7 linked regions of the Homo sapiens genome follow. The protein of the gene in region 7 purifies or fractionates together with the protein of the main gene of each other region. This does not show direct contact. Each region holds a gene or a part of one and is shown on either strand. Other genes may lie near its edges. The genes, in order: PIGO, TMEM165, PGAP4, AMFR, GPR180, TMEM39A and SLC22A5.

Region 1 (2,702 bases), on a different chromosome or scaffold from region 7:
TCTTTCTTTCTCTCAAACACATACAGCTCAGTGCCATTATATATTCACAATTTACTACTTCCATCACTGGAAAATCAAGAAATGTGCTCATGAGGATGCAGCATTTCCACAGGGAGTCTTAGAGGACTCCTTGTCTCTCCTCTCCATGAACCCTGGGAACCAACAGGAGGGATCAATTTGCTTGGCTATGGCAGGTAAGAGAGAGGACACCAAGAAGACCTTCCTAGTTGTGTGGGGCATGGGACCCTCTGTCAAGCTCAGGAACATGAGGAGCAACACCTCCTTGAAAACAAGAGGGGCCGAACTCACATCACTATTGTCTTTAAGTGAATCAGAGCTGAGATATTTACCAGGGGTGGTGACGGGTATCCCAGCAGCAAGCAGATGTAGGAGAAGGAAGCTCTGCAGAAACAGAAGCAGGAACACAAGGCTGATGCGCTCCGCATGCAACAGCAGAAGTGGGAAGGCCAACAGGGTGAGGGCTGTGACCATAGCAGCTGAGTAGACACTCCCCAACTGATAAGCAGCCACAGTCAGGGGACCCTGAGATTTGGTCCTCTCTAACCGGCCCCGGAACTCCTCCTGCATGTGTCGGTAGATTTGAGGGACCACATAATCCAAGTCAGCTTGAGAAGTGGGGGGGCCTGAGAAGGGAGTGAGGACAGTCCTGGTCCTTGGAGCGCCTGCCCCAGCCTTCACCAGCACTGTCACAGGCTTCCAGAGCAGCAGCGCGAGCCCTGAAGCAGCCAGCCCTGCTACAGCCCGAGGCAGCACCATGGATGCCCCAGAGACCAGGACCCGGAGACGGGGGGGAGCCTCATCTGCCCCCGACGCCAATGCCCAGTAGGCAGCAGTACCCAATGCCATTAGGGGCAGTCCCCAGCGCACAAAGAGCATGGGTGGCTCGGGGCTCTTGAGATTACCATAGCGGCGAAGCCACAAGCGCACGGCAGCTAACAGGGCCACCAGCGCCGCCACACAAGCTCCATACCACAAATTCTTGGCTCGACCACCCACCATGGATGCCAGAGGACTCAGCCAGGGAGAGGAGTGGCAAACAGGTGTCTCTTCAGGGCAACGATGAAAAAGCCCAGCTAGCCTTGTACATAAAAGCAACCCAATTCCAAGCCTCAGGGCATATGCACCATTGTGCCGTGGGGGGTTTGTTGTGGCTGAAGTGCCAAGGCGGGGCATTGTGAGTAGCTTAGGTGGAAGCAGCTGGCCCTCCCAGTGAAGCTGGACAACCAGGAGCAGGATGAATGAGCCCAAAAGGAAGGGGGTGGCCCTGGCCTCAGCTACAACAAAACTATCAGAGAAGAACACAGCCAAGCGAAACAGCAGGAGTAACAGGACGGGCCCAGGGATGGGAAACAGGGTTGCCAGGGGCCTCTTGGACCCCCAGCCAGCCCAGGCTTTCCACAGAAAAGGGAGGAATGAGCTCACTGCAGCCACAGCCCCTAGAAGCACTAGATCTAGCTTCAGCTCAATAGTTCCCAGGAGTCCAGCATACGCTATGGCCCCAACCAGGCCCCAGGCCACAGGTGTCAGGAGTAGAGGGCAGAATGGAAAGCCTGGGGATATTGCCCACTGAGATGCCAGCAGGCAGATAAAGCAGGAAGCAGCCAAGAGAGCAGTACCCCCCGCCATGCGGACCAGAGAGAAACGAGCCCAAGACTCGATGCACATGGCCCGAGCTCCCCGCAGGAACTGCTGCAGCTCAGCAATCACAGTCGGCAGTGTCGCCTCAGCCCCCTTGGGGCTCTGGAGAAGCCACTGGTAGTCAGCAGAGGCCTTGGAGAAGAGGTTCTGCAGCTGATGAAGCTCCTTAGCTTGAAGGTCCTGAGTAGCAGCTGAGTAGGTATGAAGAAATCGGGACACCTGGCAGAGAAAAGGTCAGAGGCCAAGGGGAACAGGTCAGAGACATAAATTGGGGCAGAGGCAAGAATAGGTATTACAAAAGGGGGTACCTGGAAGTCAAGGACCCAAACTCTGTCCAGAATCGGGGAAGGGAGGGATAACGGAAGAGGGATAGGTATGGAAGGTGGGACTAAGACTAGTCAAAGGACAAAAGAGTGGTTCATTATGCTTCTTTCATGCCCACCCTAGCTCTGTCACCTGGAAACCCAGCCCGCTTACCTACCTGCTGAGCATTGAGATGGAGAGCTGAGGCTTGGGCTAAAGCAGAGGAGTGGGGCTGGGAGTCCTCACCCCCTGAGAATAGCTCAGCCATCACTTCCCCGATATTCCCAAATGGGATGGGCAGGCCCAGCAGCAGGGCCAGCGTGGGCACAAGGCTAACTTGAGGAATCACCTCTGGCTCCTAAAGGAAAATGACAGTGGTCAACAGATTCATCACAAAGCTGAAGTCAATGTTTGGGATGGCAGACATAGGGGCCTAGGTAAGAAATGAGAGTGGAGGATACCCAGGATCATGGATTTGGGGGCCTAAAATAGAGGTATTCATGAGGATGCTGTAATGGTAACATGGGCTGATTACTGGGAGAACAGATGAGGAACATCCCAGGCCTCACCTCTGGTGGGGTGCTGGGGAAGACTGCTGTGGGGCTATACAGAAAGAGAGCAGCTGAGACCTCCAGCTCACTGTCCCCTCCATGGTCTCCATTTGTGGTCATCCCATGGTCCCCAGCCACTACCAGCAGTGTGTCATTCTCCAGACGCTCCACAAGTCCCCTGGGGGCCAA
Region 2 (3,500 bases), on a different chromosome or scaffold from region 7:
GAATTAAGAGAACTAAGCTTTTATCATCTGCTGGATATAATGTGATTTTGTAACCATTATTGGATTGGTGTTGGTTTAGACAGTTTATTTTCAGCTGACTATATAGTTAATTCCGGGACTCTTATAAAGTTTTTTTTAAAAAGAGAAAAAGAGAAGATCAAAAGCACTGGAACTCAACGAGTAAATAACCCATGGTAACAGAGAGATATAATGCAGTGATGTCAGAGGTGTACAAGAAGTGTGAATCATTTAACATGTGAAGCCAGGGTCTTTAGTCCACTTGGGGAGAGCAAAGAGGTGAGTGGGCTTCTCCATCTTTTTCCTTCTGCCTGCCCTGCTACCCCCAGCCATATGCTTAGGAGTGGGGTTCCCATTTACACTGCCCTGCTTGTCGCTCCTGGCTCAGCTGACCCTGCTTGACATGTCCACTTCAGTAATTGAACTGAAACGCTGATTGATGAACTTAATTCTTAGTGTTCATCTTTTAGCCCTGTCATTTACCCCAGTATCACATTTATTTTAAAACAATAACTATTTTGGATTAAGTTAATTGTGTGAGTGAGAGATTATGAATATGTAACTTTGCAGGTATTTTGTTGAAGTTTTAGTCATATTGGAATTTTTAAGATAGAAATGATGGTAGGTGTAGAGCTACTAATATCCTTTTTAAGAAGCTAGGAAAAATCTAGCCATGCAGAATGCCACAGTGGTAGAAACAGTGTCCAGTAAACATATTAAATGGTCTTAAGGATTCTTGTCTTTTAAAGTTTTATTTAATTTTTTTTATAGAGACAAGGTCTTCTTATAGCTCATAACTCATTGCAGCCTCCAGCTCCTGGACTCAGGCCATCCTCCTGCCTCAGCCTTCTGAGTAGCTGGGAAGGGATCCTTGTCTTTAAAACTAGGGGTATGGAGGGAAGGGTGGGTATAATATAATATGATTTTTCCGTTTAATATTTTCATATATTCTTGGTGATTCATTTTAGTTAGGCATTTATTTATTATTGTTTATTCTAATTTTGTATTATAATAGAATATAATTGTCTTCTTTTCTTCCTTTTTTTTTTTTTTAGAGACAGGGTCTCACTATGTTGCTCAGCCTGCCCTCAAACTCCTGGGCTCAAGGGATCTTCCCCTCTTGGCCTGCCAAAGTGGTGGGATTACAGGCATGAGCCATCATGCCTGGCCTTGTCTTGTTTTTATTTTATATATATAATATATATAAAAAATAATATATAAATATATAATTTATATTTATATTATATATTAATATATTAATGTAATTAATATTATATTATATTAATATATAATATATAATATAATATTATATATTATATATAATATTATATATAATATTAATACTGTATTATATATAATATAATATTAATTATATTATATTAATATAATTAATTATATTAATATAATAATAATAAATAATATTAATATAATTAATATATTTATATTAAAATATAAAAATATAATATATATAATATATATATATTTTTTTGTCTCACTCTGTCGCCCAGGCTGGAGTGCAGTGGCGTGATCTTGGCTCACTGCAAGGTCTGCCTTCCAGGCTCACGCCATTCTCCTGCCTCAGCCTCCAGCATAGCTGGGACTACAGGCGCCCGCCACCATGCCCGCCTAATTTTTTGTATTTTTAGTAGAGACGAGGTTTTACCGTGTTAGCCAGGAGGTCTCCATCTCCTGACCTGGTGATCCGCCTGCCTCGGCCTCCCAAAGTGCTGGGATTACAGGAGTGAGCCACCACGCCTGGCCTTAATTATATTTTTATGTAACTTTTTGATACTACTCAAGTATTTTTTCCTCTACGGTACTCACTATGCTGAAAGATTTTTCTTTCACATGTTTTCTAAACTATGTAATATAAGTGTCATTGGCTATTTTTGTCCACCTGATGGAGGTAAGAAATGATCAAAGTACAGTTTAACAGCAGTATTAGCAAGAGTTGAGCCTTGCTGAATATGTAAGTTTCAACGGATTTGCTTTGCAACTACATGCAGTAGATGTTTTAAGAGGGTAGGTAGGATATTTAAATTTAACCTTTTTGTGCCACTGTGTGAGAGTGGGCTTCTGAAAATGGAGGGGGGAAGCATCTCTCCTTGGTTAGTAGGCATTCAAGTGGAAGATATGTTATAAAAACCTAGTTGTATCTTATAGGATGCTAAAAGCAAGGTGACTGAACTTCTAACAGGGCATTCTACATTGAGTATGTGCTTTTCTCTATAATTAGGCTAAAAAAAGGTTGGTAAGTAATATGAACTTAAAATCAAGATTAACCCCCAATTTACAAACCCATGATAAAAAGTGTTGTTGATTACTTGGATCCTATCTTTTCTGCAGTTTATGTTTCTAGTGACTTACTCAATAGTTTTTTCTTACTCTTTCCCTGGACAGAATATGTAATATAAGAAACATAAGTCCTTTGAGTTGAGGGAGATCAGATAGATTTAATAAAAGTCATTTAGACTTTATTGCATATTCTGGAAGTCCAAAGAAGAATGACTCTGGTTGCATAGCACTTCTAATAAAGCCACAAAATCATTACCTGACTCAGTGCCTGTTCTTGTTATCATATTTTTACTTTATGTTTTGGTATTTCATTTATTTATTACGTTTCAGCTGTGAGAGTACCTTCTACAAAACATTTTAAACTTTTTTCTATTTTCATTAAGTTGCAGTCCCACTCCACCCAGTCCAGCCTCCTAATTCTAGCCTTTATACAGCTAAGATTGAGGCAATCAGTTATAAGGACGCCTGCTCATAATTACCTTCTCAGAAGGTAATTATATTAATACTGAATTTATTTAGTGGTATGCTGTCATCAAAAAAATTCATTAAAAATAAAATCAATGAAGGCCGGGCGCAGTGGCTCACGCTTGTAATCCCTCCACTTTGGGAGGCCGAGGTGGGTGGATCACCTGAGGTCAAGAGTTCTAGACCAGCCTGGCCAACATGATGAAACCCCATCTCTACTGAAAATACAAAAAATTAGCTGGGCGTGGTGGCACACACCTGTAATCCCAGCTACTCAGGAGGCTGAGGCAGGAGAATCGCTTGAGCCCGGGAGGTGGAGGTTGCAGTGAACCAAGATCGTGCCACTGCCCTCCAGCCTGGGCAACAAGAGCAAAACTCTGTCTCCAAAAAAAAAAAAGAAACTAAACACATTTAATAAATTTCAAGTGCATAAATACATTACAAAACAACATTCATAAAAATAAACATTCATTAAAACAAAAAATAATTTTATTACAAAATATTACATATAAATTCTAATATAAATTAACAAGTAACAATAAAGTATTTAAAAATAGTGAAACCATTCACAAAAATACGTAATGAAAATTAAAATACTTTAATGTTATCTTTCGAAATCAGGTTTATCTGTGGTGTCATTGTTTAAGTGCGTGCGTGTGTGTGTGTGTGTATATATATATATATATATATATATATATATTTTTTTTTTTTTTTTTTTTTTT
Region 3 (3,500 bases), on a different chromosome or scaffold from region 7:
TAGGTGGGTGTGGTAGATTGCATTAATGTTCAAAATGCCCCTCCCTGGAGTACATTTTCTGCCCCTCCCTGGAATACAAATATTTCTCCAGTCATTGGTCTCAGGTGTGGCCATGTATCTTTTGGCACTCCCTTCTGCTCTGTTGAATTTGAGTTATTATGTGATTTGTTCCAGTCAGTGAAATGTGGGTGGAAGTGATCTGTGTCACTTTTGAGCAGTGGCTTTGAGAGCCAGCTTGTGGTGCACTATTCCCCTTTTTTCTCTCTACCACAAAACCAGCAATGTTAAAAACAAACAAACAAACAAACAACAACAACAACAAAAAACAGTTCTATCTGCCTGGGTCCTAGAGTACAAACAACAGGCAACAGAGGCACAATTGACCTGTAAAGGACAAGTACTATGAACAAGAATTAAACCTTAGTTCTTATAAGCCACTGAGATTTTGGGGATCATTACTGAAGCCTGTCCTTATTCGTGTAGTGTGTAATGATTGGGGTTGGGGGCCGGGTCTTAAGCCCTGTAAGCATTCTAAAAAAAATTTCCATACTCCGTGAGCAGATTGCTAGATGCTTTCTTTTCTCCTGAGGATTTAGAAATTGGCCTGTTGCCTTTTTTTTTTCTATTGAATCTTCATTTTCCCCTCCTTCTGCTCTGTGGGAGGAGTAAATCTTCCTGTCCCATTGTTTTGGCCAATGAATGATGAGTGGACTTGATTTGTGGCACACTGAAACAAGGATGTAAATGTACCTGCATGTTTTGACTTGGCCTCTTGTGCAGCTTCCAGGCAACGTAAGAACACGCCCCAGGTGGCTGTTTCCTCTGCAGCTTGATCTAGAAGGAGGGGCATGTGGCATGAGCTAATTCTGACCTACATTCTGGAGCTGACCCCAACTGAGCCACAGCTATCCACAAACCCGTATGCAAGAAATACATGTTATCACTTTAAGTTATAAAGATTTGAGGCTGTTAATCACCCCAGCAAAGCTGATCAATATAGGTAGGGACCATGTGTCCTCTGAACCAAATCCCTCTCTTTTCCTGATTGTCAGTAGAACAGCAGTCTCACAGACGTAGTTTTAAAGTAAAGGACTATGTGAGATGTTAATGATTTTATTGTCCCCAGTAGGATAAATTCCCTGGGACCAAAGGTTCTCCTGATGTCAGTTCTAGGTGTTTCCATTTCTTTCCCCCCTGACATATCATAGTAAGTGATAGCCTTTACTATGTGCCTGGCATTTTCCAAACTGCCTGCCCTATCTCATTGTCTCTAGTTCCCTCCTCTAGATTGATCCAGCTCCCTTGTGGTAATAACAAAGGCAGGGATAATAGTATGAGCAGAAATCCACTCGAATGCCTCCTTTTCCAAGGCCAATACTGCAGGAGTGGGAGTTCAGCCCAATTCTAGTATTGGCTTCCATCAGCAGTGATGTGGAAGTGGTGAGGCCACGTTCAATCACGTTCAACCACATGGTTTGTTAACTCCATTGCGCTGAGCAGAGCAGAGGAAGAAGCAACCAGTCTGCAATATGCTGGATGTTCACAAACCAGCAAGACTGGGGTTGCATAATTCAAACCTCTCCTTGCTTTGTTCCCTCTTTGGGTACTATCCAGATCTCTTAGTACTAGGATAGTCTGTCTCACCTTTGGAGTCCCATAGTACAATCTGCTTCTGTGGCTGAAATGAAACTTGTTTCTCTACTTGAGAAATTAACCATGTCACTGTACATTTGGTATTCTACACAACTGTAGAGGGCAGAGTAGGCTAACTGCTGTAATAAAGTCCAAAAATTATTGGTGTCTAGACACAGTGGTTTATGTATTGCTCACAACACAGTCCACTCTAGTTTGGGAGGGTACTGGGAGGTGGGCAGCGGAAGGGACATCTGTTCCATGCCGTCCCAACACTGGGATATGTATGTAAAGGATTCAAGGACCCAGGCTTCTGCCATCTGGTGGCTGTACCTCCTCTAGATCCACCAGGGCTCTCCATTCAGCTGGCAGATGGGGAAAGAGAAAGTCGAGATGGCACATCTGTTCTCAACTACCTTGTCCCAGGTGTGACACCTGTCACTTTGCTGACAAGCCCTAGTCACATGACTCCACCTGGAGAAGGCAAACTAGGAAATGAGGTCTTTCTGTGTGCCCAAGGGGAGACCATGGATATGAGAGCACTGGCTGAGTCTGCTCCACAGCAGCCTCGTATGGTTCCTGGGCAATCCTCCCTTTGCAATAACTCACAAACTATACAGTTTTCCTCCAAATGTGTGTAAACCTTATGATGCGTCTGAGGCAACAGATTTACTTTCTGTACTGCAGACACCATTTAGTTTTGCATTGACCTTACTAGCAATTATTATTTTATACTGGCTTTGCCCTTTTCATTCTGTTTTTTGGCACTAGTCTGTTTTCCATCAGAATATTAGACCTGCTTACTTCTAAAATATTTTTGTGAGTTTGAACACATGGATAGATTTTAATGGCATTTTTACTCTGCATTATTTTGCTTTCTAACACATTTAATATTCACAGTAACCCTATGAGACAGATATTATTATTTCCATTTTAGAGCTAAGAAATATAAGATATGGAGAGGTAAACTTCCCACCAAATGAGAGGCAGAGCTAGGATTCACACCAATATGAGCCTGGCCTCAGGCCCATGCTCTGAATCATCATATCACACAGCATTTTTTCCTGGACCAAACTGAGGGCAACTGTCTCTTCCATATTCACCTCTGCCTTTCCCCCCCCGCTCCCTCATTGAAAAGCTACTCATGGATCTTCCTCCAGATGTTTCCTCCCTCCCCAAGCCTGGGGCTCTAGAGTTTGCTTGCTTATGGGAAATACTTCCTCTCATTGGTTCCCATGATCTATAAAAATAAAATGGGAGAACAATCAGGATTAAATTAATATGCAATGTTAAGTATAGTTGTGTGAGATTAGAAGCATATGAATGGAAAATGACATTAAATAACAAAGATACTTCAGAGAATCCTAAGTATTCCTTCTCTTGTTGGACAAGTTTTTTTTGGAAATTGCTATATGCACAGTTAATCAACAAGTATTTTCTGGGCCCTTATTCTGGAACTTGCTCTAAATGTGTATATTTCCTTTGTGCCAAGCCTTGCTTTTTTGCCCCCGTTTTAAGAACCCATTGTCTGTGTAGCTGGTGAATAGAAATAATGATCCCAACAGCCTACCTGGAGATTTTCTGGCATTGTAAACCTAACTAAGTATCTTTAGGCGTGATGATTTGGTTGAATGCACCGAGATCGTATTACTCATAGAAATAATAAAAACATCCAGAGGTTGTTAGCAGACACAACCAAAGAATGGTTTACTGTAGAAAATACTTTAGAGTCTGTAGAAGCTACAGAGCCTCCTATTATAATTTCTGGTTTGATATGTGCTGAGCTCAGTTCTTGTCCTTTTGTTTTTTTGTTTGTTTGTTTGTTTGTTTTTTTAAGTTACTCTTACCATTCCCTACTTCCTCTCTCT
Region 4 (2,797 bases), on a different chromosome or scaffold from region 7:
TTACCAGATGCTCTGGTTTTTTCAAGAGAGGCTTGAAATCTGAGTTTTGGGGTGGCATGTAATGCCGTTTCACTGTTGGCATCTGTTTAAAAAGAGAAGACGGCCTGACAACGGCCTTCAGCCACTAGTTTTTGATCTGGATTATGCCAGGTGGTCTGGAGAAGCGACTCACTTGCGAGCTTGCTGGAGGAGTTCGTCCTTACGCTGCACCAGCATGCGCTGTCTCTCATCAGCAGACTTGGAGAAGCGGCTCCCACGAGCCTCGAAGTCTTCCACCTCACTGGGCTCCACTTCCACCTCGCCGAAGTCCAGCGTCTCCTCCAGGCGAGGACTGAGGTCCAGTGGCACACGCTCGGTCTGGACACGGGGCAGGAAGCAAGGAGGCAGCTGTGAGCACAGGCCTCCCTCCTAAGCAGGTTCCTCACCTACAGGGCACCCCAGACACGGCTGTTCTGGACGCAAAGAGAAGGCTGCTGCCAAGCAGGGAGGCAGAAACTAGGAACCACAAGCTACGGATAATGGAGCAGCAGCTTCCCTGAGGGCAGGCCTGCTGCCTATGGCTTGAGTAGTACTAAGAACAGGACCTGACTCACACAGAATGTTCGGCATCAGAGGGTAAGTAAATGATTACCAGCATGAAAAACGTAAGCACCTTCAAGCTGCACTCTTAGAATACGCTACCAACACGACAACCGTGAGTTTACATCCTGGGAATTTTCTGTTCACTTCTACTAATTGCTCAAACATTTAAACCAGTCTTATCCAATCTTCTGCACAAATTTTATATCCTCAATTGACTCTGAAAACAGAGGTAAAAAGGAAAACTGCTAGGCATCTATTTATTTATTTATTTACAGACAGGGTCTCACTCTGTCACCCAGGCTGGAGTGCAGTGGCACAATCTCTGCTCACCACAGCCTCAACCTCCCCAGGCTCAGGGGATCCTCCCAACTTAGCCTCCCAAGTAGCTGTGACCACAGGCTCGTGCCACCACATCTGGCTAATTTTTGTATTTTTTGTAGAGACAGGGTTTTGCTTTGTTGCCCAGGCTGGTCTCAAACTACTGGACTCAAGCAATCTACCCACCTCAGCCTCCCAAAGTGCTGGGACTACAGGCATGAGCCACTGTGCCCAGCCCTAAGGATCTTTTGAAAAGACACAGGATGGATTATATGGTTCCTTGGCTTTGGTTGAAGCTCCAAAGTCCACGACAATGCCCAGGCACCCCCAGGTCCTAGCAGGTGCCTGACCATCTGCGCTGCTCATGCTCCCAGATGCAGACCTGCGCTGGCCAGGGTCAGCCCATTGCCCGCTTCTAGGCTGTGACAGAATGGAGGTGGGTGCAGCTGAGAGGCAGGCTGTTTTACTTCAGAGTTCCTGCTGGACCTACCCTCACTTTTTCCTGCCTTCAGCTAAGCTCGAGAGGGAACTTCAAGAGAACCATTCGTATCCCCGAGAGTCAAAGGACGGGGGAACTGGTGGCTGCATACACTTGAGAAATCTACAGAAAGAAACTGGCAGGAGCCAATAAAATACAGGGCCAGGGGAGCTGTGACGGGAGCACGTTCACCTTCCACTGACTCCAGACAACACTGTGTGTGTCCTGGAGCTTGGATAGGGCTCCTGCAGGAGGGAACCAACCTAAGGTTGTTGAAAACAACTGTGCCCAAAAGGACCACTTGGAGAGGTAACAGGACCCCCATGAAGGTGGGAGTGGTCATCAATAGCCAGCCCAGGGTCAAAGGAGGAGTTTCTGGGGCCAGATGGGGACAGGGAGATAGTTGGCATAACATGTACACACACACACACAGACACACGTAGTTGGCACAACATGTAGGTACATACACACACACGCACACACACGCTGGAGTCTCACTGTCCTATTCTATCCCTCTCCTCTAAGCCTGACCCTAGAGCAGGTTAGAAAAAATGGTGAGTGAAGAGGCGAGATGTTAGAAAGAAAACAGCCGCCCACCGCAACCCCTGCTCTGTGCAGCTGCATGCCTGACTAATACCAGCCTGAGCGGGGCAGGGCAGAGATTAGAACAGAGGGAGAGTGGAGCTGACAAGCTTACTGGGCTACACTGAGGTTTCTGTTAACTAATTGTTATTCAAGGACTTTGTATTTCTTCACAAATGACCAAAAATGTTGCACAGCAAGGTTCCCTGTGAAATACATACTTTCCTCCATTATATATACATATATATATATAAAATCCAGAACTCTTCATGCTAACTCTAGAAGCAGCAGTGGAAAATCAAGACAGGGACTGAATATGCTGTACCCACAGATGCCCCCAAGCCCACAGCATCCATATCTCAGCTGCGCCAGCTATTCAAAAACTGGAGGCCGGGCGCGGTGGCTCACGCCTGTAATCCCAGCACTTTGGGAGGCAGAGGCGGGCGGATCATGAGGTCAGGAGATCGAGACCATCCTGGCTAACACAGCGAAACCCCGCCTCTACTAAAAATACAAAAAATTAGCCAGGCGTGGTGGTGGGCGCCTGTAGTCCCAGCTACTCGGGAGGCTGAGGCAGGAGAATGGCGTGAACCCGGGAGGCGGAGCTTGCAGTGAGCCGAGATCGCACCACTGCACTCCAGCCTGGGTGACAGAGCGAGACTCCGTCTCAAAAAAAAAAAAAAAAAAAAAAAACTGGAAATGTAGACATGGACCCCTTAGAAGCCATGCACCATTTCACAAATGATGCATAATCCAATTACATAGGTGGATATGAAAATCTTAACCCAGCAACAGATTTGAAGAAGGCCTAGTAGTGTTTACTGTTTCCTCTTTGTA
Region 5 (3,926 bases), on a different chromosome or scaffold from region 7:
CTGCAGTCAGCTTTGATTACACCACTGCACTCCAGTCTGGGTGACAGAGCAAAACTCTTTTTTTTTTGAGACAGAGTGTTACTCTGTCACTCAGGCTGGAGTGCAGTGGCGCAATCTCGGCTCACTGCAACCTCCACCTCCCAGGTTCAAGCGATTCTCCTGATTCTCCTGCCTCAGCTTCCTGAGTAGGAGTAGCTGGGATTACAGGCATGCGCCTCCACACCCAGCATCACCACATCCAGCTAATTTTTGTATTTTTAGTAGAGACAGCGTTTCACCATGTTGGCCAGGTTGGTCTTTTTTTTTTTTTTTAATTTATTTTTGAGACATATTCTCGCCCTATTGCCCAGGCTGGAGTGCAATGGCACGATCTCAGCTAACTGCAACCTCCGCCTCCCCGGTTCAAGCGATTCTCCTGCCTCACCCTCCCAAAATAGCTGGGATTACAGGCACCTGCCATCATGCCTGGCTAATTTTTATATTTTTATAGAGACGGGGTTTCACCATGATGGCTAGGCTGGTCTTTAACTCCTGACCTCAGGTGATCCACCCACCTCAGCCTCCCAAAGTGCTGGGATTACAGGTGTGAGCCACCACGCCCAGCCACCAGGTTGGTATTGAACTCCTGACCTCAAGTGATCTGCCCACCTCTGCCTCCCAAAGTGGTGGGATTACAGGCAGGAGCCACCCAACGAGTCTGGCTTCCTTTTTAAAAAAAAAGAACTTTCAGAATAATATATGTTGTAAGATGAATACAGAATGAACCTGGTTGCACACACCAACTACATTTAAGGCCCAGAACAGAAATGGCAGTAAGTTATTGCCTCTAGGGAAAGGGATTCTGGGTGAAAGAGCTAAGACAGGAGACTGTTTTTCATTTTAAGATCTTCTATTCTCCTGGAAATTTTTTTTCTATGCTTTTATTACTATAATTACCACTTTGATTAAACATTTTAAATATATTTAAATATACAGTATATATATCAAAGAATGTGCAAGTCTCTTACATAAATTGATTACATATTTTGAAGTCTTACAAGTGACTCTGAGGCCCAATTGACACTGTAAATTGCATTCCGAGTTACAGTTCATTGTTTCAGTATAGTTTTTGTATTATTATTTTACTGAATTGGGATTCATGAAAATTGGTAATAACTATATGTGATTTTACACATATGAAACAGAATGAACGCACTTGAAACACCTTATCCCCAATCTGTCTTGAGAAATCTGAATTTAGTACATGTTTCTCCTCCACGTTTACCAGATGATCATCAGGAACTATGAGGTCGTCCAAGTCTCTCTGCTGGTCCTAAGTAATAACCCACGTCTTCTATACATCCCACATTTTCCAACACTGTCCACATTGTGCCATTTAAGACAGTGGCTGTCAATACTCAAAGTATGGTTACAGTCCGTTGAATGAGAAACTCAAAATGTTACAAAAAATAATAAAATTGTTTCTAGTGTTTCTTCTTCATTCACCCAAAATATATTCCACATTGGATTTTGAAAAACTGGGTTACTGAAACTCCTTTTCTTAGCTATCTTAAAAACTTCAAAAAAAAAAAAAATCAGGATCCCTTCCCTTTATTCTGTCAATTCTGTAATTTCCCAATACTTTAAATTCCTTTTCTCACCAAAGTAGTTCCGTTTCTATTATCTTCTCCTAACAATATTTTCTAGGCCAATATTCTGATGTTCATCGTTGCATCTTTTAATGCTAAAGACTGTACAAATCAAAGTTCCTAATGTCATCAAGGCAAATAATTATTTGAAATACAGCACTAGTCAAATTAAGAGTACCAAGAAAAACACTTAAATTGTGAGAGTGCAAATGAGACCAAAATTAGAATGAATTGCAAATGCATTTATTGAAGGAATAATTACTGATTTTTGAGGAAGACCAAAAGGTCTGAAATCAAACGCAACTCTGATTTCAGAAGAGCCACACAGAACACAAATTAGGGAGCTTCCAAGATGCTACTTAAATGCATTTTCATCAGCTTAATTCTAGGCCTTACTGCCCATAGTAAATCTACTGCCCTAGTAGCCAAGTAACCAAACTGCTCAATATAACAACTACATTATCAAGTGTTTTACTTGGTTTCCAAAACCACTCTGTTGCAAGTAGGTCTCAGGAAATTGGTCTTTAAAAAAAAAAAAAAAAAAAAGGAAATTTAAGTTTCTAGGGTTAAATTCTCCCGTCACAGTGTGGCCGAGACAGGAAGGAGCAAATATGCTTCTTTGCGGGAAGGATCTGGAAAGATGCGGCCGACCAGTCTTTTGCACATTGGCTTCCAAGGGGAGGGTTGGGGAAATGGAAACCAGCTTTCAGGTGCGGAACACGATCACTAGTGGCGAGAGGCCGCTGCCTGGGGCTGGAAAGCCGCACCAGCGGGGTTGGCAAGGAACGCATCCCACCATTCGCGGCAGCTGCTGCAACGCTGGAGGTCCAGGTGAGGCTGGGGAAGTCGCCGGCCTCGCCCAACGTGGCAGGGAGGGGCCGGGAGGAGCGGCCGGCGGACTCAGCCGGCGGGATGGGCCAGCGCGCCTTCATCCCCCTCCCCGCCCCCAGACCTACCATGGAACTCGAAGTGGCCGATGCGCTGGCCCTGGGCGTCCTGGGCCGCGGTGCTGCTGAAGCTGCCCCGCAGGGTCTTACCCTGGCTGCCCTGCGGCCACCAGCAGCACGTGAGGGCCACAGCCAGCAGCCGCAGCCCCCCCATGCCCGTCTCCAGGTCTGCACCGACGCCTCGGCTCCCAGCCGCCGGCGGCTGCCCGCCCCACGTCGGCAGCTGGGGGAGGCGGGGTGGGCGCCGGAGACCTGCTGCTCTGGAGCCTGAGAGCCAATGAGGCGGGCTCCTCTGCCATAAGCCGAAGACATTCACCAGTCAGAGGCCGAAATGGGCGGGACGCGCAGATCCTAGCGTCCCATCAGTCCCCGGCTTTTGACTAGTTCCCGCCTTTTTCTTTAATGAGGAATCAGGAGGATGTTGCTTCAGGTTACGGAAAACTCATCTCCCTCCTCATTGCCTAGCACGTCTTGCTACTGAGCATGCGCGGGCGCGCTGGCACGAGTCCGCGGGGCCTTCGAAGGGCTTGTGGGATTCGGAAAAAACTTAAGAAATGCAGGACAGGACTGTTTCTGGCCGAGAGAGTTAAACTCCCGCAAAGAAAAAACTGTGTTCTTATGCAGATTTTCTTCCTTGGCGCCTGTATAACCTACAGGACGTGTCCGATTTAATGTCTCAAAGACACTTAGCTCCGCATGACCACAATTTAACGCATGCCTTCTCTTGGCATCTCCAGCCGATTTTTCCCTCCTAGGTTCTCTGGCTTCTCGAATTACATTACCCCCACCCCCACCCCCGCCCGCAGACCAGACCGCTGGGAATTGTAGGCCCCCCCCCCCCCGCAATTCAATCAATTCAATAACAAGTGTGGATTAGCCCTTCTTCTGGTGAGGGTGGGAAGCAGCGGCCACAGTCCTACTCAGTTCATCACTTTGTTGGCCTATGGCAAAGACCGTCTCTACAGTCTTCATTCTAATTGGCTACAATCCATCTCTACCCTACAGCCACAGAAAGCTGTAGGAAACAATTTGCTGCACTTGCCTTGAAAGGTTCTCAATTGCCTTTAGCACACAACCCAAACTCTAGAATATGGCTCTTCAACTCTCAAATGTCTGTTTTTTCTCATCTCCATCCTTACCGCCGTTGGTTTCCTGAACACTCCCAAGTTCTCCCTTCTAGGCCTATATCACTCCCTGATCCCTCTGGCTAGAATACTTCTGCTTATTCCAACACTGGACCTCCTCACCTTCCTTTTCCTCCTTTACTCCTCCTTCCCAAGGCACTTTAAGAAGCCTTTCTCAAACCCCTAAGTCTGTAGTAGATGCCCCTGGAACCAGAATCCCTTACTTC
Region 6 (3,500 bases), on a different chromosome or scaffold from region 7:
TACTTCTGTTACAGGAAACAGAAGATCAAAGTAATATGACCAACCAAGGGTAAGACTGGTTTTCGAACCAGTGCATTCATCTAAAATTAACTACCGTTTACCCAAATATAGATAGCAAGAGGGGCCTTTACTTGGTGAAGAGAGACAATTAAAATATTCTCCACTGGCAACACACCCTACATTCCAGGTTTCCCAGGACAGTCCTGGTTTATGCCTGTTGTCCCAACTGTACTCCAGTTTAGAAAACAAATTATATGTTCACCATGCTCATGGATTTCCCAGTTTTCTAAATGCTTCATTTATATTTGAAGAATTTCATTTTTCACTCTTAAAAGTATCGTTTACGTGACCGAAATAATTTCTAAAGATTTACTAATAACATGGTAAAACTGGAGTACTCACGGGTAGCCAAGGAAAAGGAGATTGAGGACTGAATGGCTTCGAAAGAGATTGACGAGGGTCCAACAAAGTACCCATCCACACAAAGTGAGTAGTACCAAGCGAGCTGATATCAGAACCATGTAGTGAATCATTGATGCTGCACCTGCCTTAGTAGCCTGAAAGTTTGGAAGCACCAAAATGAACATTTTGTAAATGATCTTCTTCAAAAGCATTGTAATTCAAGTAAGAACTTAATAGGTTTAGTGGAAGCTAAAATGTGTCTTTAAAAAGTGAAATAAAAGAAAAACTGCCCCATCCCACCTTATCTTCGTAATAATTGAAAATTCAGACTTCTCCAGGCACAGTTGTTTCCTTCTTGCACCCCGAGAGTGCCATCTACAGAACTCTTTTAAGGTCTTTTTATATCATCTAATTTATTAACATTGGAGCTTCTCAAAGTATGTTCCACGGATCACATTATTTTGTTCCATCAGAATGACCTGGGCTACTAATTGGACATGTAAACTCCTAACAACTTTCCTCTCAAGGGGTAAGGAATAAAATCTTGAGTCAAGCAACCTATATTTTAACAACTTAACCAGTGTTTTATTTATTTATTTATTTTTAATTTTTTTTTTTCGAGACAAAGTCTCGCTCTGTTGCTGTTGCCCAGGCTGGAGTGCAGTGGCACAATCTTGGCTCACTGCAACCTCTGCCTCCTGGGTTCAAGCGGTTCTCCTGCCTCAGCCTCCTGAGTAGCTGGGATACAGGCGTACACCACCACGCCCAGCTAATTTTTGTATTTTTAGTAGAGACAGGGTTTTACCATGTTGGCCAGGATTGTCCTAACTCCTGACCTCGTGATCCACCCACCTCCCAAAGTGCTGGGATTACAGGCATGAGCCACTGTGCCCGGCCTGATTTTTTATGTACATAAACATGGAGAGACACTAATTTATCTGTCTTACTTCCCACTAAACTATAAAGGGCCTCAACAGCAGTAACAATATTTTTATTTTTCTTTGAATCCTCACCTCTAATTTGCTTGGTGAATTAATGTTTAATAAATTAGTGAAGTTTCAAAAAATAATCCGATCTTCTTTGACAGATCCCTATATAAATAAGTTTCTTTTTTAACTTTTGCAAACATGGAAATAATGCATAATCACTTCCAATTCTTTTTATCACAGCTATTCAAATATGCTTCTTCAATCGCAAATCTTTAAAACTGACTAAATATATTAAGTACTTGTCAAAACTTACTCTGCAATGCCATTTTCTTTCTGAATGAACTAGGGAGAAGAGAATGAGCAAAATGTAGGGGAAAATGGAAGATCCCCATAACCTCTAAGAGAGCAGTGATGGAACCCAAAAAGGAGAAAAAAATTATCTAGAGTCAACAGTACATGGTAGGGGATAAGGAGCTTTTCAGGTCCCTCCTATATATCCGTTTCTTAGTTTACAGATCATATTATGGAGTACCTATAACATATACGCAATATACTGTATACTGAATACTATATATATACAGCATATATACGTAATATATAGTTACTTTAAAATGCAAAGCAGCAGTTGAATAAATGCCATAATGAACGGCTTAAGCCTCAAACTGTGAAGATGGCTCAAGCTCTTCTCAGTCATAGCCTGGCACATAGCTTCATATAACTCCCCTGATACATACCTTCATGCCAATTTACCTCACATATCAAAGCTTAGTAAAGTTATTTAAGCTATTGGAGTTACTCTATTACCTCCTTCTCAAAAGTTCAGGGTTAGAAATAAAAAAGACTATTTCTGCCCAATGTCATCAGAGCACAGAGCTTGGATTTGTTAATTTTGCCTTATTCCAGAGCCCCAAGCCGCTAATCACTGTGGTGTATGTCACAGACCCTTTACCAGGTCCTAGGGGTACAGTGGTAACCAAGACAAACAAAACCCCTGTGCTTATGAAGCTGACTAACCAAGAAAAACAAATATTAAACTTTTATCTAATCATTTTTTTAATTGTAATGAGTGCTATAGGAAGAGTAGGCTGCTATGGAAAGTAAATAACAGGAGATCCTATTCTAGAGATGGCTTGTGTTAGTAAACGGTATTTAAGCTGAGACCTAAAGGATAAGCAAGATTTCGCTAGGTGAGGGGCAGAAAAATATTCATAACATTATGTTAATTTTAAAGTACAGGATATGAAACTGTATATAAATAATTCTCAAATATAGTAAAATAAATGTAAATATAAAATCTTCATACGCATATGAAGATCAGAAGAAAATATAGCAAAATGTGGTCTTTGGCCGGGTGCAATGGCTCACACCTGTAATCCCAGCACTTTGGGAGGCAGAGGCAGGTGGATCACCTGAGGTCTGGAGTTTGAGACCAACCTGGCCAACATGGTGAAACCCTGTCTCTACTAAAAATACAAAAATTATCTGGGCATGGTGGTGGGCGCCTGTAATCCCAGCTACTTGGGAGGCCGAGGCAGGAGAATCGCTTGAACCAAGGAGTAATCCCAGCTACTTGGGAGGCCGAGGCAGGAGAATCGCTTGAACCAAGGAGGCGGAGGTTGCAGTAAGCCAAGATCATGCCATTTACAGCCTGGGCGACAAGAGCAAAACTCTGTCTGCCCCCCACCCCCCAAAAAAAGTGGTCTTCAATAATGAGATTGTGAGCAATTTTTAAATGTCCTGCTTTATATTTTAGTGTTTTCCAAATTTTTTTCAATAAAATATACTATTTTCCTAGAAAAACAATTTTTAAAAAGAGAGTTGCTTCAGGTTGGTGAAAAAACAGCTAAATTTATTTCTAGTCTTGTGAAGCAAGTATAGAAGTAGAGTTAGCCTGGAGGTGAACAGGCAGAGCTGGCCTGAAGGTGAATAAACGGACTCTACCTACGTGGAGAGGTAGTCCTCTCTGAATAGCATTTCCGTTTATGAATTAATTACCAGCAGCCTCTCCTTAAATATTATTGATCTTTCTCAGGGTAGGGATCCTTTCTGTGATATATGCAAAAAAAGGAGGAAAACATATTTTAATGGAAGGAAGGAAAGATGATTTATGATAGGTTTTATCCATCTAATTTAGATATTTTAGGAGGAAAATCACTATACAGCTCTTAT
Region 7 (3,500 bases):
TCCTGATCCTGCTCACAGACCCCCTGCGGCCAATAGGAAAGAAGTGTTAATGCATATTTGCTTTTGGAGGGCCCAAAGCCAGGCCCAGAGAGTTGTCAAGGGCGGTCAGTGGTGGGTGGATGGCAGAGTTAACCAAGGAGTTACACACCTGCCTAGACTAAGGACAGGCTGGACCAAGTAGAGAGGGTGGGGCTAAGGGAGCCTGAGAGATGCTCTGGGGCCTATCTCAAAATGAGCACTATAGTCACCCTGTCCCCTGCAGAGATTGTCTGACCTGGTTTTAGGTCACACCCAACCTTGCCAGCCAAGGAGTCTTTAGAAGCCTGATATTGGGAGACCTGTCCTGGGGTCTACAACCCCAGAACTCACTGCAGAAGCCCACGTGGATTGCTAGTCTAGCTCAGCCATATGGGTCCCCAACCCTCACCTCATGATAGTCCTGTGAGAAACCGCTGCTGACCCTTTGTTCATGTTTTCATCTTTTCCACTATAAAAGACATGCTAGCTGGGAAATAGAGCCCATCATACTCAAGAGTGGCAGGAGCCAGGTCCTGGCCCCTGAAGCTTGGCCTCACACACAGAGGCCGGCACCCTGTCATCAATTCCCTCAGCTTTTTCTCCGCCTCCACTCCCAGTCCTAGATTTAGCAGCCATGTGTGGGTGGGGGCCACTGCAGGGATACTTACCCACCTACCAGAGAGATGGCCTGTGGGTGCTGGCCCTTCTGAGGCTGTGGAGGTTGGAGGCTGTGGCAGCCTGGGCAGTCAGGCTGTGGTCCTCCCATGTTCTTGACTCCTGCTAGTCTGGGCTGCCTCCTGATTAGGGGTTGGATGCTCCAGTTCTTCCCTGGGTTGGGGATTGCCACCCTACTCCCAGCCCATCCAGGTTCACGCTTATTCCAAAGCGGAGCACCAGCAGTGTGCCTGCTGCGGGAGTTCTCCGTGTCCAGCCTGAGGGTTGCCTGCCAACCCCTCTGAGAGGTGCCCGGAGGCTGTGCGCCCACACTGCCCAGCAGTGCGGAGAAGCAGGCTTGTTTTTCCCTGTCACTGGCTTGGAAGAGATGCTTTGTTCTAGGGAGCCGCATGTCCCCTTGCCTGCGTTGTTGGTGAGGAGCCAGCAGGCTCCGTGGAGGGCAGGCTAGCAGCCTGGCACCAGGGAGGCAAGGGTCTGAGTTCCTAGGAGGGTGGTTGCTCATGTGAGAAGTCTGCAAAGGTTACTACTGAGCACCATCTCTCTGTCTGAAAAACATTTTTCATTTTTCTGTGAACCACTAAGTTTCCCGTTTGGGCTTTCTTCCTGCTTTTGGCTCTTGTTTAGGCAGGCGCAGCCAGATCCAAGCGTCTGGCTGCTTCCCCATGTCTTCAGACCTCTTTTTCTGTTCATGGTAACTATAGATGGAACCACACATTGGAAGCTGGAAACTCAAGCGGTGCAGCCTATTCCTTACCCCAATCCCTGTTTTACAAATGGGGAAATCAAGGCACAGCATGGGGTGATGCTTATCTGAGGTTGGAAGAGTTTTAATAGTAGAGTGGGAGCTAAAACCCAGTTTCTTACCTCCAAGCTCAGGACTTTCAGCTGTAATTGAGCCTAGTATAGTTGGTGTGCAGCATCAGGGATTCCAGCTCTAAAGGTCACAAAAAGGACCCGGGGGTCATTGGCCCAGGGTGGGAACCCGAGCAGAGCAGGTCCAGATGGTGCACTCTGTGCCCTGGCCTTAGTTTCTTGCTGGATGCTTTGGCCCGTAGAGCCCCAGAGCCCTGCTTCCAGAACCACTCCAGTGACGTTCATGCCAATGGCCTGAACCCCACTGAGCGAGGGTGCCCTGCCTCTTCCACAGCCCTGGGCTCCGCTCAGATTTTTAGGAGCAAGCGTTAGAGGCCTTGCTTTCTCCAGGGTCAGCATGTGGACAGAACACTTACTCTCTGCCTGTCTCTCCTCCTCAAAATGGAAGCAAGACAGTGGGGCCTACAATGCTATGAAAAACAGGATGGGAAAGAAGCCTGCTCTCTGCCTTCCTGCCCAGGTGAGCCATCACCTGACTAAGTGAGTTCACACTCAGAGCGTGTGGGGATGGCAGGATGTTCTGACTTCATTTTCCAGGATGCCTTTGCTTTAAAACCTTTTAAAAAGAAGTGAATGATACACCCCCTTTGCTCATCTTGCAGTGGAACCTGGTGTGTGAGGACGACTGGAAGGCCCCACTCACAATCTCCTTGTTCTTCGTGGGTGTGCTGTTGGGCTCCTTCATTTCAGGGCAGCTGTCAGACAGGTAAGGTGTCTGTCTTCTGGAGCACCAGGGGACCTCAGCACTGAGGAAGAAGCGTGTGCCTGGCCCTTGATTTCAGTTGGTAGTATTCTTTCAGCGCAGGGCCCTGTATTTTAAAGAAGAGGAAGCTATGTCTGTGATATAGACTCCATGCCTAGTAAGAAGAGCCAACAAATCTGACTCCGTAATTCTTGCTAAGTAAAGAAACCTGAGCTGTCTAAGCTGAATGTATCTGTGACCCGGTTGACTAGGTAATATGCCATGATTCACTTCTGCAGTAGCCTGGCTTGCCTCCCCTGGGTCACTGTGACTCTGTCATGCCCCTGAGCATGGGAGAGGTTGACATCATGCACACATGCACATGTGCTAGATTGTAGATCTGTAGTAGTGCCACGGTGTCTGCCTCTGTAGTCCCAAGAAGACCAGCATTCTCTCTGCAAAGTGAAAGGAGCTCTCACCAGCCACTAGTGGTATGAAAAGCAGAACTCTTTTGTCCACAAGGCTGATGCCCCTTAGCTAAGTGGCCTGTGGTTTTGGCATTTACTTTATGACAGGAGGGAGAATAGTGTTTTGATCCATTTCTTATAAGCAGGTTATTTGTATAATTCTAAAGCTTTTAACTCAAGGAAACATTAACGGCTTAGAGAATCCCAAACCCCTCGAAATTATATGCACAATGTTAGAGACTACATGTGAGCATTTTTTTGGAGAGAGGTCCGTAGCTTTCATGAAGTTCTTAGAGGGGTCCATTATGTTGTGTCTTCTTTCCCTGGAGCTTCAGGGTCTGTCAGAGAAGACTGTGAAGAGAGTAGCAGCCTTCAGCAAGTCCTTGGCCACATGACACATGTGAGAACACCCCACAAATCGGTGGGTTAGCCGGTGGAAAGGAGTCCCAGCATCTTCCCTGGTTTTTAATTCCTGGCCTCAAGCAATCCTCCCTCCATAACCTCCCAAAGTGCTGGGATTACAGGCGTGAGACACCATGCGCAGCCAGATATTTTTTATTGTTGTTGTTTTTTTTTGGAAAAGGAGTTTCACTCTTGTTACCCAGGCTGGAGTGCAATGGCACGATCTCGGCTCACTGCAACCTCTGCCTCGCAGGTTCAAGAGATTCTCCTGTCTCAGCCTCCCGAGTTGCTGGGATTACAGGCATGCACCACCATGCCCAGCTAATTTTGTATTTTTAATAGAGACAAGGTTTCTCCATGTTGGTCAGGCTGGTCTCAAACTC

The links.
Region 1: the proteins of SLC22A5 (region 7) and PIGO purify together in Homo sapiens (affinity purification with mass spectrometry; one large-scale study listed by BioGRID and IntAct). This does not show direct contact.
Region 2: the proteins of SLC22A5 (region 7) and TMEM165 purify together in Homo sapiens (affinity purification with mass spectrometry; one large-scale study listed by BioGRID and IntAct). This does not show direct contact.
Region 3: the proteins of SLC22A5 (region 7) and PGAP4 purify together in Homo sapiens (affinity purification with mass spectrometry; one large-scale study listed by BioGRID and IntAct). This does not show direct contact.
Region 4: the proteins of SLC22A5 (region 7) and AMFR purify together in Homo sapiens (co-immunoprecipitation; 2 studies listed by BioGRID and IntAct, with this or other methods). This does not show direct contact.
Region 5: the proteins of SLC22A5 (region 7) and GPR180 purify together in Homo sapiens (affinity purification with mass spectrometry; one large-scale study listed by BioGRID and IntAct). This does not show direct contact.
Region 6: the proteins of SLC22A5 (region 7) and TMEM39A purify together in Homo sapiens (affinity purification with mass spectrometry; one large-scale study listed by BioGRID and IntAct). This does not show direct contact.

Annotation. Positions count from the first base shown.
Region 1 is NC_000009.12:35,090,890-35,093,591, forward strand, and holds part of PIGO (GPI ethanolamine phosphate transferase 3, catalytic subunit), read right to left. Parts: intron 2,692-2,702; coding exon 2,532-2,691; intron 2,321-2,531; coding exon 2,141-2,320; intron 1,879-2,140; coding exon 351-1,878; intron 1-350.
Region 2 is NC_000004.12:55,398,957-55,402,456, forward strand, and holds part of TMEM165 (putative divalent cation/proton antiporter TMEM165 precursor), read left to right. Parts: intron 1-3,500. UniProt on the Homo sapiens protein: Putative divalent cation:proton antiporter that exchanges calcium or manganese ions for protons across the Golgi membrane.
Region 3 is NC_000009.12:101,477,174-101,480,673, reverse strand, and holds part of PGAP4 (GPI-N-acetylgalactosamine transferase PGAP4), read left to right. Parts: exon of another isoform or gene 1-3; intron 4-750; exon of another isoform or gene 751-834; intron 835-3,500. UniProt on the Homo sapiens protein: Golgi-resident glycosylphosphatidylinositol (GPI)-N-acetylgalactosamine transferase that catalyzes the N-acetyl-beta-D-galactosamine transfer from an UDP-N-acetyl-alpha-D-galactosamine to the 4-OH-position of the first mannose of the glycosylphosphatidylinositol (GPI) of a GPI-anchored protein (GPI-AP).
Region 4 is NC_000016.10:56,363,749-56,366,545, forward strand, and holds part of AMFR (E3 ubiquitin-protein ligase AMFR), read right to left. Parts: intron 358-2,797; coding exon 173-357; intron 1-172. UniProt on the Homo sapiens protein: E3 ubiquitin-protein ligase that mediates the polyubiquitination of lysine and cysteine residues on target proteins, such as CD3D, CYP3A4, CFTR, INSIG1, SOAT2/ACAT2 and APOB for proteasomal degradation.
Region 5 is NC_000013.11:94,600,731-94,604,656, reverse strand, and holds the start of GPR180 (integral membrane protein GPR180 precursor), read right to left. Parts: upstream 2,801-3,926; 5' UTR 2,730-2,800; coding exon 2,585-2,729; intron 1-2,584.
Region 6 is NC_000003.12:119,446,616-119,450,115, forward strand, and holds part of TMEM39A (transmembrane protein 39A), read right to left. Parts: intron 558-3,500; coding exon 403-557; intron 1-402. UniProt on the Homo sapiens protein: Regulates autophagy by controlling the spatial distribution and levels of the intracellular phosphatidylinositol 4-phosphate (PtdIns(4)P) pools.
Region 7 is NC_000005.10:132,376,210-132,379,709, forward strand, and holds part of SLC22A5 (organic cation/carnitine transporter 2), read left to right. Parts: intron 1-1,954; coding exon of another isoform or gene 1,955-2,026; intron 2,027-2,168; coding exon 2,169-2,272; intron 2,273-2,275; exon of another isoform or gene 2,276-3,500. UniProt on the Homo sapiens protein: Sodium-ion dependent, high affinity carnitine transporter. Involved in the active cellular uptake of carnitine. Transports one sodium ion with one molecule of carnitine.